Linked DNA regions of Homo sapiens: all the other regions are linked to region 3. The links come from fine-mapping of genetic effects on gene expression. A gene starts in region 3. Each other region holds a variant in brackets. All regions are shown on one strand. Distances are between the middles of the regions.

Region 1 (5,230 bases), 39 kb after region 3:
GCCTGACCAACATGGTGAAACCCTGTCTCTACTAAAAATACAAAAATTAGCCAGGCGTGATGGCGCATGCCTGTAATCCCAGCTACTCAGGAGGCTGAGGCAGGAGAATCGCTTGAACCCAGGAGGCAGAGTTTGCAGTGAGCCAAGATCACGCCATTGCACTTCAGCCTGGGCAACAGAGCAAGACTCTGTCTAAAAAAAAAAAAAAAAAAAAAAAAAATTTAGATGTATTTCTAATAAAGATTTAAAGATTTCCATAGAAATATTTAAAGGAGAATTTGAGTCACTAACTATAATGCATATATAGAAGGATAACTATTTAGTGCTTCTAATTAAAGATAGTTCAATAAAGCATGCACATCTCCCTTTACTCCTTACTTCACTCCTTGCTAAAATGAGAGTAAATGAATATGGTCATATTTTCAAAAGGCATAAATAAGGGTAAAAATATTGGGAGAGGAGACTACAATAACAACATTCTGAAAATTAGAGATGGAAAGCTGCAAAACCACTTGATTTGTGTTGCAGGCTTGGAAATTGGTAACACCAGGAACTTCTAGAAATGGGAGTAGGAGTAGTACAAAAGGAGTAGAATTGACTGCAAGTGTGTGTGTGTGTGTGTGTGTGTGTGTGTGTGTGTATTATTTTTGACAGAGTCTTGCTCTGTCACCCAGGCTGGAGTGCAGTGGCACCATCTTGGCTCACTGCAACCTCTGCCTGGGTTCAAGCGATTCTCCTGCCTCAGCCTCCCAAGTAGCTGGGATTACAGGCTCATGCCACCATGCCTCAGCCTCCCAAAGGGCTGGGATTACAGGCATTAGCCACTGCGCCCAGCCTGAATGCAAGTATATTTAAGCAGAAGCAGGCTCCAAGACTCCGTAACCCATTCCACAAAGCTAGATTGTGAACTCTTTCCTAACATGGCAGAACACTGGGAGGTTATTCTTTGTGATACCAAACGTCTTTGGCCCGGAGAATATTGGGCACAGTTGAGGGCCAGGATACTGTACTGAAAACAGCAACATTAAAATGTAGACTGGATAATTAGTTGTTAATATCCAACAGTCTTCTCCTTAATTCAGTTCCCAGAGCATGACCTATCCTCTTAAGCATTGTAAGACCTATTTTTATCTTAAACCTGATCTATTCTCTGACCTGTTTTCTTAAGCATAATATTAGAAAATTATTTATGGAAGAATCCAGTCAATCCAAGGTAAAATTCCTAAAGAGATTGCTATTAGATGTTCCCCCAAACCAAAACCAAAACCAACAAAAAAAGAAGAAAAAGTGATTGCAGGTGAGGTTCCTCAGGAAATAAACTCTGAAACAGAGATTAGCTTGCAGGAAGTTAATTAGAGAGCACTCATGGGAACCACACTCACGGAAGGAAGGAAAGGAAAGGAAGTAGGATTGAGGAAAGGTAAACTGGACTGCGGTCACACCTCAAGCTGATCCCATGGGGAGTTCTGAAATAATAATGGTTTTTCAAAGTTGTCCTGCAATATGACAAGCATGGTGGGCTTTTATACCTTCATGCTGACCAGTCACTGGATGCAGGTTGCCCCCAAGAAAAGAGTGTGACTTTGGTGAGGAAGTTTTCTTTAGTTGAGAGCAATTTCCAGAGCTGCCAAACAGCTAAGGACTGTCAGTGGCAATACTCCTAGAAGCTGGTGAAATAAGTTCTTCAGTTCTGAAGGGGGAGCTGGATAGCACCTGCCAGATCACCCCACATGTGAATCCCACACTTGTCCATGTGCATAAGTTTCCTATTGGCTATTTAGTGTCTGTATCAGGCAGGAAAGGTTATGCTGCTGTGAAAAATGCAATGTTCTGGCTCAGTCAGTTTCAGTTTGAGACTAAGGCTTCTTGGCAATAGCCTCTATATGGAACGTTGCTGGCTTTTTGCATGTAGGAAGAGCACATGTTATACCAT[G/A]TACTGATTCTTAAAGCGTTTGCTCAAACGTGACAGGTATCACTTCTGTTAACATTTCATTGGTTAAAGCATGTCACATGGCTAAGCCTAAGGTCCTGAAGTGAGGATATATCATACCCCCTACATCAGTTAATCTATTACCCTAGAGCTTAGTGAGTCAATACAATATGTATTGATGTGTTGTTTTTCATATTTTTAAAGGTTAGCTGGGCTCAGCATGGCGATTCTTCTGCTCCTGCGGCATCAGCCAGAGTCAGTGAGGTGGCTGTATTCAACTGAGAGCTCAGCCAAGGCTAAAATATCCAAGATATGACCTTTTTCCATATATGACAGCTGGTAGCAGTTGTCGTTTAGTTAAATATTAAGTTGAAATATTTCAGGAAACAAAGCACAAGAGGAAAAATAATGGAGAAAAGAAAATAAGAGGATCAGTCTGGGAAGTCCAAATTTTCAATAATCAGAGATGCAAAGATAGAGGATGAAGAAAATCAAGAAAGATAAATTACTGTGTAAATAATGTTAGGAAATTTCCCAGTAATAAAGGTCATGAGTTTTCAGATTACAAAGTCACCCTGATAGCAAAATGGGTAAAAATGATCTAAACCAAGCCACATAATTATGAAATTTCAAACATTTGGGATAAAAGATAAGAGCCTATATGCTACTAAAGAGAAAACACAGTTTCATTTAAAAGATCAAGAATCACAATTTCACTGGACTTAGTAATAGAAATACTGGGAGTTAGAAGACAAAGGAGATTGTTTTCAAATTCCAAGGGAATAAGATTTCCAATTTATAACTTTAAACTCAATTAGCTACCTATCACAACTAAGGGTATGTAACAATATTTTTCAGGTGTGCAGAGTCTCAAAATATTATCTTTTATTTACCAAAATAAGGGAGTAAATCAAGAAAGCACAATGCATGCAAGCCAGGAAGCAAGAGATTGATTAGAAAAGACAGAAAAAGGAATATCACAAGATAATAACTGCCTTCGAGGGCAAACAGTACAGACGAAAAAAATGAAATTCATTGAAGACTTAATATATTTGAACAAACTGGAGAAAATTAACATTTCTAAGAGAGCGTTTACGTTTGAGTTAAAATGAGTAATTTTATGGTTCATATTTAAATGACATTTACATAGCTGTAAAAATATAACCCTGAATATTGAACTATATTGAAAAGTATGGGTGAGGAAATGTGGAAGGGGAGCAGTTTAGAATGGGATGCATGGAATAAGAATTGGTGAAAAACTAAACCCTCATCTCCTCTAGTGGGAGGTAAATAGATAAGTCCTGTAACTGAAATATTAAGAATTGAAACTACTCATTTTATTTAGAAATAGAAAGTATATCTGTATTAGTTCATTCTCATGCTGCTAATAAAGACATATTCGAGACTGGGTAATTTATAAAGGAAAGAAGTTTAATGGGCTCACAGTTCCATATGGTTGGGGAAGCCTCACAATCATGACAGGAGGCAAAGGAAGAGCAAGGCACCTCTTACATGGTGGCAGGCAAGAGGGCATGTGTAGGGGAACTGCCCTTTATAAAACCGTCAGATCTCATGAGACTTATTCACTATCAGGAGAACAGCATGGGTAAAACCCGCCCCCTTGATTCAGTTACCTCCCACTGGGTCCCTCCCACAACATGGGATTATGGGAGCTACAATTCAAGATGAGATTTGGGTGGGGACACAGCCAAACCATACCAATATCCCAATAGAAACATCTAAAAGAATAGACTCTTCAATTCTGTGAATTAATAAATTCTCTTTTTTGCTAAAGTCAATTTGAGTTGATTTTTCTGGGGTTTTTTTGGTTTATTTTGTTTTGATTTTTGTTTTTACACTAAAAGAATCTTGTCCAATACATATACACATATTCTCAGATCCCACAACAGAATTTGCAGAAATATTTTGAAAAACTTCCCATGTGATTTTGATGCATAGTTTGGTTTGGGCATCACTACTCAGAAGGACTATGATCTTAGCAATAAGCTGTATTCCTTCAGTAAGGAGTCTAATGAACTCATCTTTCAAATTCTGATAGAGATGATAGCTCATGTTCCAGCACACCTCTTCACTTTTCTTCTTATCTTCAGCTTAGGAAGCAAGATTTTATCTCACATATTCAAGTATGAAATAGTGATGATAGGAGGAGAAAGAAATACATTGCTTTCTTAGGGGGAAAAAAGAACCCAAAACAAAAAACAAAGGACTTGAAGAAATCAGGAATTTTGTTATCTGATAAACCCATAAATTTCCTCATGTGCTTTGAACTTCCTGACTCCCTCTGCTCCTTTGCCTCTGTGCCCCAAATCTGGAAAAACGTTTTAGTACTTTATTCTTTATAAATAAAGCTGAGCAAGGGTAGTGCCTTCCTTCTATGAAGAATCTATTTCTTCTGCCAGGAGATATTTTACCAGTTGAACTGAATCTGTAAATTCACTTAATAAAATGGCCAACTGACATTCTTTATTACTATGTCACCTGATGAACAAATATCTCTCCATTCCAATTCATTCTGTAGAAAGCAGAATTCTCTTAATATCTACTATATCAGTGTTACTGACATAAAATTGAGATTGAAATGCTTAAATAATAAAACCACCAAGTAGTTGCGGACAGGGAAGAAAGTCCCAATTATCGATTGCTGCATAACAAACCATTCAAATTTTAAATGGCTTAAACAATGGCCACTTTTTAATATCTCATGATTTTGTAGGTCAGAAATTTGTATTGGTCTAGGTGATTATTCTGTTTCATGTGGCATGAACATAAGTCACTCTGAGGAACTGAGCTAATGAGTAGACCAGTCTGGAGGGTCCAAGGTGGCTTTGCTTGCATGTCTGTTGCTTGTCAGAGGATAGCTGGAAGGCTGAGTTCAGCTAGGACTGCTGACCATAGCCTCTATACATGGCATCTCTAGGATGATGATCTCAGGGTAGTTGGAGGTATATGACTGGCCAGGGCTTCTAGAGGAAATGTTCCAAGAGATCTGGGCTGAAAATTCAAGGCTCTGACCTTAGGCACAGAAGATCCAGAATATCTCTTTTGTTATATTGTATTGGCCAAGGAAGTCATTAAGGCCAGCCAGATTCAAGGGGAGGGGAATTAGACTCATTGCTTCTTAATGAAAAGATTAGCAAAAAATTTGTGGCCTCTTTTAACCTACCACAGAAATTATCACTACACTTACATTTCTGGGAATTGGAAAATCCCTTACTACCTACCATCAATCTAGAAGTTATTCTTCCTACAAAAAAGTAGAAGAGTTCAGGCAGTGGCTCA
Region 2 (5,230 bases), 23 kb before region 3:
AGAGTCCACAATTTAATTTCTACAATATGCTGCCTCTAGAAAGCAAGATTTAACTTCCCTGTTTCCAAGTTCAAATAGACCATGCTCTACATAAAGTGAAACCAAAGGAAGAAATAGAGACCCAAAATGAATAAAGTCTGAAATGGAATAGACTGTTGTAGATAGTCAAATTAGCCAACTGTTCAGACAAGGTATGAAGAAGTCAGAATTATGTATATTAGAAACCACCGGTCGGTCTATCAAAGAAAGATCAGGAATATTCGCCATTTATGTAATGTTAATGTCCATACATCTTTAAACAAATCACTTTTAAAATCCAAGATTTTAATAAAAACCCTTAAGAAGCCTCTTTAAATAGTTATTCAAAGTACATTCAAAAACATTGCTTTTACATTTCAAGGTACTAAATCCCTCAACACAAAGAGAATTAAGAATACACAGTATATTGTTGTAATTGTTCAATTTTATTATTAGTTGTTGTTAATCTCTTATTGAGCTTAATTTGTAAATTAAACTTTATCATAGGTATGTATTTATAAAAATAAAAAATGGAAAAAAAACATGGTACAAGCATATCTGAGATATTGCAGGATCAGTTCCAGACCACTGCAATAAAGTGAATCTCTCAACAAAAGGGGTCACATGAATTTTTTCATTTCTCAGTGCGTACAAAAGTCATGTTTACACTACACTGTAGTCTATTAAATGTGCAGTAGCATTATGTCTAGGAAAACAATCTATACACCTTTATTAAAAAAGTTTACTGTCAAAAAATGCTAGTGATCATCTGAGCCTTTGGTGAGTCACAGTCTTTGAGCTGGTGGAGGGTCTTGCCTTTGTGTTGATGGCTGCTGACTGACGGGTGGTGGTTGCTGAAGGCTGTGGTCACTGTAACAATTTCTGAAAATAAGACAACAATGAGCTTTGCCACATTGATTGATTCTTCCTTTCATGAAAGATTTCTCTGAAGCATGTGATGCTGTTTGACAGCATTTTACCCACAATAGAACCTCTCAAATCCTGCTCCTACTTTATCAACTAAGGTTATGTAATAGCCTCAACCCTTTGTTTTCATTTCAACGATGTTCACATCTTCACCAGGCATACATTTCATCTCAAGAAACCACTTTCTTTACTCATCCATAAAAAGCAACTCCTCATTCATTCAAACTTTATCATGAAAGTGCAGCAATTCAGTCACATCTTCAGACTCCATTTGAAATTCTAGTTCTCTTGCTATTTGTAACGCATCTTCAGTGACTTCTTCCACTGAAGTCTTGAACCCTCAGTGTTATTCATAAGAGTTTCAGAATCAACTTCTTCCAAAGTCCTGGTAATGTTGATATTTTGCCTTCCTCCCATGAATTACAAATATCTTAATGGCATTTAAAGTAGTGAATCCTTTCCAAAAGGTTTTCCATTTACTTTGCCCTAATGTAGCAGAGGAATCATTAAGTACAGAAGCTATAACTTTACAAAATGTACTTTTTCAATAATAAGACTTGAAAGTCAAAATTACTCTGTGGTCCAGGGGCTGCAGAATGGATGTTGTGTTAGCGACATGAAAACAACATTCATCTCTCTTGATGAAACTCTATCAGAGCTCTTGGATAACCAGATGCCTTGTCAATGAGCAGTAATATATTTTATAAGAACCTTTTTCTGAGCAGTAGGTCTCAACAGCGGGCTTAAAACATTCAGTAAACCATGCTATAAACCGATGTGCTGTTATCCAGTCTTTCTTTTTCCATTTACAGAGAACGCAGGCATAGCAGATTTAGAATAACCCTTAAGGGCCCTAAAAATTTTTGAAATGGTAAATAAGCACTGGCTTCAATTTGACATCACCATCTGCATTAGCTCTTAATGAGAGAGCCTCTTTAAAGCTTTGAAGCCAGACATTGACTTCTCCTAACTACTTAAGTCCCTGATAGCCTCTTCTTTCAATATAATGCTGTTTTATCTACATTAAAAATCTGTTGTTTAGTGCAGCCACCTTCATTAATGATCTTAGCTAGATCTTCTGGATAGCTTTCTGAAGGCTCTACATGAGCACTTGCTGCTTCACCTTGCACTTTTATGTCATACAGATGGCTTCTTTCATTAAACCTCATGAACCAACCTCTGCTAGCTTCCAACATTTTTTCTGCAGCTCCGTCACCTCTCTCAGCCTTCACAGAATTGAAGAGAGTTAGGGTTTTGCTCTGTATTAGGCTTTGGCGTAAGGGAATGTTGTGGCTGATTTGATCTTCTATCCAGACCACTAAAACTTTCTCCATATCAACAATAAGGCTGTTTTGCTTTACATGCAGTCACTGGAGAAGCTATTTTAATCCTTCAAGACCTTTTCCTTTGCATTCACAACTTGGCTGTTTGGCACAACACACTTAGCTTTCAGCCTATCTCTACTTTCAACATGCCTTCTTCACTAAACTTAATTATTTCTAGCTTTTGGTTTAAAGTGAGAGGCATGCAACTCTTCCTTTCACTTAAACACTTAGAGGCTATTGCAGGGTTATTAAATAGCCTAATTTCAATACTGTTCTGTGTCAGGGAATAGAGAGGCCTCAGAAGAGGGAAAAAGAATGCGAACGGCCCGTTGATGGAGCAGTTGGAACATGTGCAACATTTATTAGGTTCACCATCTTAAATGTGCAGGGCTGTAGCACCCCAAAATAATTAAAATGGTAACATCAAAGATTACTGATCACAGATCACTGTAACAGACATAATAATAATAAAGGGCATGAAATATTATAAGAATTAACAAAACGTGACACACAGACACAAAGTAAGCATGTGCTGTTGGAAAAAAATGGCACCAATAGACTTGCTTGACACAGAGTTGCCATAAACCATCAATTTATTTAAAAAACATGCAATATCTGCAAAGCACAATAAGACAAAATTCAATAAAACAACATAGACCTGTATATATGGGGTAAGGTCCTATGTTTGGTTTCAGGCATCTACTGGGGGTCTTGGAATGTATCCCCCATGTTCCAAGGC[G/A]TGGGACAACTGTATTCAAATCTGGTACAGAAAAAATACCAGTTTCCCTCTAGCTGCTGTTCATGTATCCTGCTAGTGGCCATATCACTATTTGGTTATAACTGAACCTAAAATCTGTTCCAATAGGCTTAGCTCTCAGAACCATAAGACATACCAATAACAGCTCAATGAATTCAATATCTGTTAGGCACCAGAGTGCTAGGCAAGTGCAGTTTATACACGTTCCATCATGCATGTGGGGACTCTGACCATCTTGCTCCCCACAATAGCCTCCCGTGCCTGACACATTATTCCAGATAACACAACAGAGAAAAGGACAGGTCAAGGTCTTACTCAAGGTCAAACAGCTAGTAAATGGGAGAACTTGGAATTGAACCCTACTGTCCCTTATTTTAAAGCCCAAACTCTATCACACTACCCATATTTTCCAAACTGTCTCACAAAAATCACACGGTGAAAATATATTGTCAAATTTATAAAAAAGAAGATACAGAACAAGGTATTAAGTTGCTACACTTTGTACAGAAGAAGAGGAGGGTAATTGCTTAGGTAAGTAAAAATCGATTGGTGTATGTTTATAGAAGCATAGACTATTCTGCAACTTTTTCAAAGACAATGATAGTGGGATATGGCAGGGCTGAAGGACACTGAGATAATCTTACTTTGCACTGCATTACTTTTGTGTTTATCAAATTTTATACCTTAATAGAGGGTTGCCAGATTTATCAACTAAAAATACAGGATGCTAGTTAAATTTGAATTTCAGGTAAATGAATAATTTTTTAGTGTATGTCCCATGCCACACTTGGGACATATTTATACTAAAATCCAATTTTATCTGAAATTCAAACTTAACTTGGACATCTGTTATTTTATCTAACAATCCTACTATGTACATGCTAGCTTAGAAATAACAACATATAAAATCATTTTAGCTTTCACGCTTCCTGTAAAACTTTAATATAATGAGACAGCTGCCTAATCCTTAATAAATCTCAAAGATTTTACCTGTGACCATATGATTCTCCAACAACTTGTTGGTAACACTAGTGTCAGAAGGGGATAAAAATAAAACAGAATATTTGGTATTATTTAGAAATAGGAACTGATTAACTGAGTAATCATTTTACATTTCAACAAGTTGTAATGGTAACATGTAGGCACAGCTTTTACGAAGTAGAGAATCAGCGTTTGAAACATAACACAAACCATTCTGCTCAATGCAGATTATATGGCAACTAACAAGTGAAAATATGTTTTAGGCTAAAAATAACTCTATGAAGAGAAACTGCCCAAATGCATACAATTTTCTACTTATCTTAAACAATTCTGACTGAAAAAGGAATACGACATTAAAAGGGCTTGTTTCAATGGCTTGCAGCTTGTCAGAGTTGCTCAGCATCTGTTTTTGCATTTAAATTTACCATTTCTATCATTCATAGTTGCCTCAGCAGTACCTGAAGTAAGCAGACGAAGGCACAGTTGTAGTCAATTGCAAGTAGTTTTTCATAAATCCAATTGTCCATAACAGCAATATTTATACTTTCAGTCATAATTCCTACTTTTGGGTAACATTACTGAACTACAGCTCTAAAAGTATAGAAATGTCACAGTACCCACCAAATCATGTAGTCATCCAACAGAAATCACTCAGTCTTTTCTTAGCATCTGTTCTTCTGAACTTCTCCCTCATTTTTATAGGCTTTGATCAAAAAAGCATTCATGAATACAATTTTTATTTTCAAGTAGACATTTATAAATCTTCCTAAATTTATTCAATGAAAATAAGATTAATTCAATTTTGCCCACCAAAATGAAAGAAAATCAAGTATTAAAGAACATTAACTTCACAACATACTTCAAATACTGATTAATATTCTTGTTCTTTCTTTATGAAACTGCCAGATAAATTACCTGAAATGGAAATGCTGTAGTCCCAGCTACTGGGGAGACCGAGGCAGGAGAATCGCTTGAACCCAGGAGGCAGAGGCTCAATACAGCTCAATCCAATTTTATCTGAAATTCAAACTTAATTTGGACATCTGTTATTTTATCTAACAATCCTACTATGTACATGCTAGCTTAGAAATAACAACATACAAAATCATTTTAGCTTTCACGCTTCCTGTGAAACTTTAATATAATGAGAGAGCTGCCTAATCCAGCCTCCGCTGGATACATTAGGCTTCCTAATATAGCCTCCGCCTCCTGGGTTCAAGCG
Region 3 (5,230 bases):
AAACTCTGAGACCAGCCTCTATTCCTCACAGTTAGGTACATTTAAATGCATCTGAAAAGGAAAGATGTCTTTAAGGGTCAAGCAGAGCAATGTCTAGGTGATAGGACTTTGAAGCACACTAAAAATTGACTAAAGATCCCTCCCTTTCCAAGCCACAACCTTCAGGCCTAGTCAATAAAAAGGAGTGTGGTAAAGGGACAAAGAAAACCAGAACTAGAGAAGGTAAGTGAAAAGAATAAACACAGAAAGGATCAAAGGAAAAAAAAAGGAACATATGTAAGAAATAAGGTACACCATAATCTATTAGTAATATGTTGAGAATAATCTTCATTAGTTTGTTTGTTTTGGCAAATGAGATAGGGAAGAAGAACGGAGAGTCAAGGGGTACCCAAAACTAGTTTTGCCTACATTGCACACAAGGGTACAGGTGCCTCCATCCAAAGCTTAGTATTGTATTAGAAGATCAAGTCAAGGAACGTTTTGCTAGGCTTTTATTTTTATTTTTTATTTATTTACTTATTTATTGAGTCAGAGTCTCGCTCTGTCACCCAGGCCGGAGTGCAGTGGCGCGATCTCGGCTCAATGCAACCGCTGCCTCCCGGGTTCAAGCGATTCTCCTGCCCCAGCCTCCCTAGTATCTGAGACTACAGGTGCGAGCCATCACGCTCCGCTAATGTTTGTATTTTTAGTAGAGACAGGGTTTCACCATGTTGGCCAGCCTGGTCTTGAACTCCTGACCTTAAGTGATCCACCCACCTCGGTCTCCCAAAGTGCTGGGATTACAAGCGTGAGCCATTGCGCCTGGCCAAGTTTTGCTAGGTTTTTAAAACACTATTGTTTGCCAAAATTCCATCAGGTGCTAAGGCATACATTATACAAATTTAGATAGTTCCAACATTACAAGATGTTCATTGTAATCACTCATACCCAAATTCAACATGTAAAACTCCCAAGCCCGAAACCATCACCTCCTCCTCGTTAGTTTTCAGATAAGGTGTTATTTATTCTATAAAGGGTAACCTAAACCAGGAATTTCTAGGGAAACACGAAGGGGATGTTTACATCAAACTGTCTACAAGGCAGGACGAGGCAGTCTGATCACTTATCAGATTCCTTCTCTATGACATCAAGGAACATGGAGAAGTTTTCCTTCTACGCTGGTGAAGTCATGGTCCTCTTATCTATCTGATGATACCTAGGAAACACTAGCCTCCAACCGCAGCCCCTACTGCAAAAAGGCAGTCAGTGCCCATTGCCGGGGTCTTCCCAAGCGGAGCACCTCAAAAGCCGCACCGCGCAGTAGAGGTCTCCAGGGGCCCCCACTCGCCCCCAGTGACTACGGAGCGGCCTCTACCTCCCGCCGGCGCCTGGCCACTTCTCCTCCCCCGCAGTCTCCGCTTGATTTCCATGTGACTGCAGGCAAGAATAGCCCAGCCTTTGTGCCTCTGCAAAGAACGCAAACAAAAATGTACACCATCACCACCCAACAAACGCGCAACTCCGCAAGACACAAAGCGTCTCCCAAACATCGCTTCCCTGGTAACATCCGGCATCCTGGGGCTGCCAAATCGCAGACAAAGACGCCCATCAGCGCGGGGGGTGAGGAGACTAAGGGAGAGACAAGACCAACGTGCTCCCACCAACGGGAGCGGCGGTTAAAAGGGCGCCGGTGCCAGGGGTGAGGGACGGGGCACCGGTACCAATTAGCGGCTCGCCTCGGGGTCCCCGCGGCTAAGGCGAGAACGCAGGACCAGGAGCATTGCTGCCCACTCTCTACCGCAACCCGCACATCCCGGGACCACGTAACGGCGGATGGGGCGTCCGGGAGCGGCCCCTGCAGGGGAGAGCAACAGGCTCCCGCGCCCTGGAGGCCTGGTCTGCGCTCCGGGCCCCCAGGCTAACACCCCACCCCCAGCCCCCCGACACCAAGACTGTGCCCCTCTGGGTCAAGGAAAAGGAAAAACTTTTAAACCTCTTAGTCAGCGAGAGCAAAAGAAAGGGGTGGCGGGGGTGCTGAAAGGTCTAGGATTATCCACCGCGGGGCTGGGGGGAGTGGAGACTTGCGAGTAGCAAAGGAAACTTCTAGACCCCATCCTTTTAAAAAAGCCACAGCAGCGGCTTCCGCGAAGCGCCGGGCCGCGCGGGGTGGGGCAAGCGCACCGCCCCACCGCCCCACGGCCCGCCGCCACCCCTACCCCCACCCCCACCCCCACCCCCATCCCCGCCCCCACCCCCACCCCCAAGCGCCGAGCCCAGGGCGCCCGCGCACCTTCCCCGCCGGCGCGCGCGCAGGGCGCGGGGGCGCGCCTCGGCCTCTGGGCCGGGGCTCAAGCGCCGCTTACCCGGCTCGCGGCGCCCGCCCAGGGCCGCGACGCGAGGGGGCGGAGGACTGGGGAGCAGGGGTCGCCGGGGCCTCTGGATGCCTCGCCTCGCCCACGCTCACTGTCTTCTCTTCTGAAGTAACGACCCGGCGAGGAGCTTCGGATCAAAACGCACAGACACTCACGCGTGACTGAGAAACTTAATCCCGCGGTGGCCCGACGCCAGCCTAGCGCTCCGCCGCGCCCCCTCCCCCAGCGCGCGCCGCACTTGCGCCGACCGGGGCTGCCGCGGAGGCGGTGGCGGGGCCCAGGCTGCTGGGGCTGCCGTGACGCCTGCGACCGGCGGGGCGGCGGGCGCGCCTTGGCCAATCAGGGGACGCGGCCGAGCAGGCCTGTGCGGGGTTTTAAACTCGCTCCTGGGCCGCTCGACCTGGGGTGTGGGTAGTGGACTTGTGAGGTGGTCAGATAAAATATAGGCTGCTCTGTTAAATGGGAATTTCAAATAAAAAAAAAAAGGAATAATTTTAGTACAAGTATATCCCATGCAATATTTGGGACGTACTTATGCTAAAAAGTTCTTCGTTGTTTATCGGAAATTCAAATTTAATGGCAGTCTTGTATTTTTATCTGCCGATTTTGTCAACCTGCGGAAACTGATAGCCTGTTTCTAGCTCCTCAGATTTTCCTTATGTGCACTGCCCTGTGGATGCTTTCTGCATGGGTAGCTTACTGAATGGCATAGGATGCTTATGAGAAGCGCTTTAATCAGAAGGGTGGGGGCAGTCCTCTCACTTTCTAAGTAACTTTTCGCACATCAGGGTGCATTCTTAGTCTGATGATCCAATTAAAAAGCAAAAACAGTAAACATGGAAAAGTTATTAGAGTTGCATGGCCCCAGGAAGAACAGATATTCATTTCTATTTTGTGCCACTTAAGATTTTCTTTCTGTTATCCTCAATTTGGAAGTCCCACGAATTTTTTTCTGCATAAGAAACTCTTTTTCAAAATATCCCTCTGATATTAGATTATAGGACCAAAGGATACTCAGAAGTCCAATTTAGAACATTTAAAAGAATTTCTTTTAATATTCTGAATAAAAATACTTTTTTCTCATATTCCTTGGACTTTCAAACACATTCACAGCTGTTGACCTCTCTCTTCCTAGAGTCCTCCCCACCCCACCCCTCTTGTAATTCCATGCAATCACACTCTTGGTTTTGCTTCTTCCGCTTAGTCAAGGGCGGATGTATGGGCTCTGAAGCTTGTACAATTGGGAGCTCTGCTTTAACCAAAAAAAAAAAAAAAATCTTTCTTTAGAAAAATTCAAAAAATAAATGCCCATGTAAACACATTGCTAGGGTTGCTCCCAGGCAAGAGAAGGACCCGGAACGTTAAGCTACATCAATTTCCAGGTAGATCTGCCCCTGTCCCCAGGCCACTCTTCAGTCTTCTTTGCCTCCTCTCCCCCAATCTTTAGATGCTGGAATTCCTTAAAAATCAGTTACGGGCCCTCTTTTCCTTTTAACTCTTACCTCTAAATACATTTTCACTTCTAGCTTATGATCTCGTACCTACAGAATCTTACATTTATACCTTCAGATTTATCCATATATTCAAGTGTTTATTTGGCTTCCCTGTTTGCTTGTCTCAAACCTAGATTGCAAAAAAAAATGCAGCCGTGATACTTCTGCTCAAGCCTGGTCATCTTGTTCAGTGTCCCAGTGAATGGAACTGCCATAGATGCTACATGATTCCCACAAACTACGATAAACCCATTGTGATGCATTCTTATGGTACCCTATGCTTTTGCTTCATAATATTTTTCCTACTTTGTAAATATGCATTTGATTTTGTAATTATGCAATGTCTCTTCCCTCTTCAACCATAAACTCCATGAGAACAGGGGCTAAGTCACCATTTTATCCTCAGAGCCTAGTAAAAACTTCACACTTGGTTGGCACTCATATGAAATAGGATGAATATACGACTGCAAGAATGAATAATTTCTCCATATAACTTTTGTGTTCTTGTCATAGAGTCACCTCAAGGCATCCCATTTGGAAAGGATTTTCTTATTGCTTAGAAATTCCAAAGGGATCCTCCTGTTTGAATAGCACTTCTACTTGTCAGTTTTCAAATCTGGTCATTCTCAAATACAAAGGAAGTACGTGCATGAAATGTTAGCTGCTGGGGTAGTGTAGGAGGAAAAGAATTTCATAACTAGCTACTGAAGGAATTCTTTGAGTCCTAAAATTTTAAATGGCATTTTTTATATTGAACCATAGGGAAAGAGCCCATAAAACTGAATTAGAGGAAAGTTTTAGAAATTTAATTCCCTGGTTTATTGTGGATAAATGAGATTAAAACAAATAATTTTACCTTGGTTTAAAAGGTGCTATTGTTCTAGTCTCCTTTAGCGAAGCAAAGCCCACATGCCCTCTTTAAACAGCAGTATATCAGAGGATAAAAAGGCATCTGGTTTAGATTAGTCCTTGCATAAAATTATCCAGAGTTTGGGGATAATTCCACCCTGAAGCTTCTCCTTTTGAAGTTAATCCGTATAGCTATTGCTCTATTCTCTTTAACTTGTTCTAATCCAGAAAACCTAAGATTTTCTAGAAATCCACCGGGGATATAGTGCACTAGTTTAAAAAAAAATACCTAAAATAAAAGTTAAAAACATTAAAGTTGAAATAAAATCTTGCAGAGAAAGACAAAGTGTAAAGCAGATAGAGTAGAGGTGCTCTACTCTATGGGATGGCTTGAAACCCCATACGTAAATAGATTAATAATGCTTTCTATTTCATGTTAATACAGGCTCTGGGGTCATTCCACCTATATCCTCAGTGAGGCATTCTCCACAATAATTTGTTTTTCTCAAATTTGAGTCATATTCAGAGGACTTTTAT

What was found.
Region 1: its variant is fine-mapped to the expression of MPDZ in pancreas (GTEx, PIP 0.91).
Region 2: its variant is fine-mapped to the expression of MPDZ in fibroblasts (GTEx, PIP above 0.99). The same link has a PIP of 0.9 or more in atrial appendage, gastroesophageal junction, ovary, subcutaneous fat, sun-exposed skin and tibial artery.

Annotation. Positions count from the first base shown.
Region 1 is chr9:13,316,074-13,321,303 of GRCh38, forward strand. No RefSeq gene overlaps it. Among named protein-coding and RNA genes, the nearest start is that of MPDZ, 39 kb to the left of the region's middle. The variant G/A (reference allele first, on the strand shown) is at 1,934.
Region 2 is chr9:13,254,023-13,259,252 of GRCh38, forward strand. All of the region lies in intron 1 of MPDZ (multiple PDZ domain crumbs cell polarity complex component), which reads right to left. Among named protein-coding and RNA genes, the nearest start is that of MPDZ, 23 kb to the right of the region's middle. The variant G/A (reference allele first, on the strand shown) is at 3,010.
Region 3 is chr9:13,277,058-13,282,287 of GRCh38, forward strand. MPDZ (multiple PDZ domain crumbs cell polarity complex component) reads right to left here and starts at 2,635. Exons shown (of 47, transcript NM_001378778.1): 1 at 2,343-2,635. RefSeq lists enhancers at 111-826, 827-1,542, 1,543-2,258.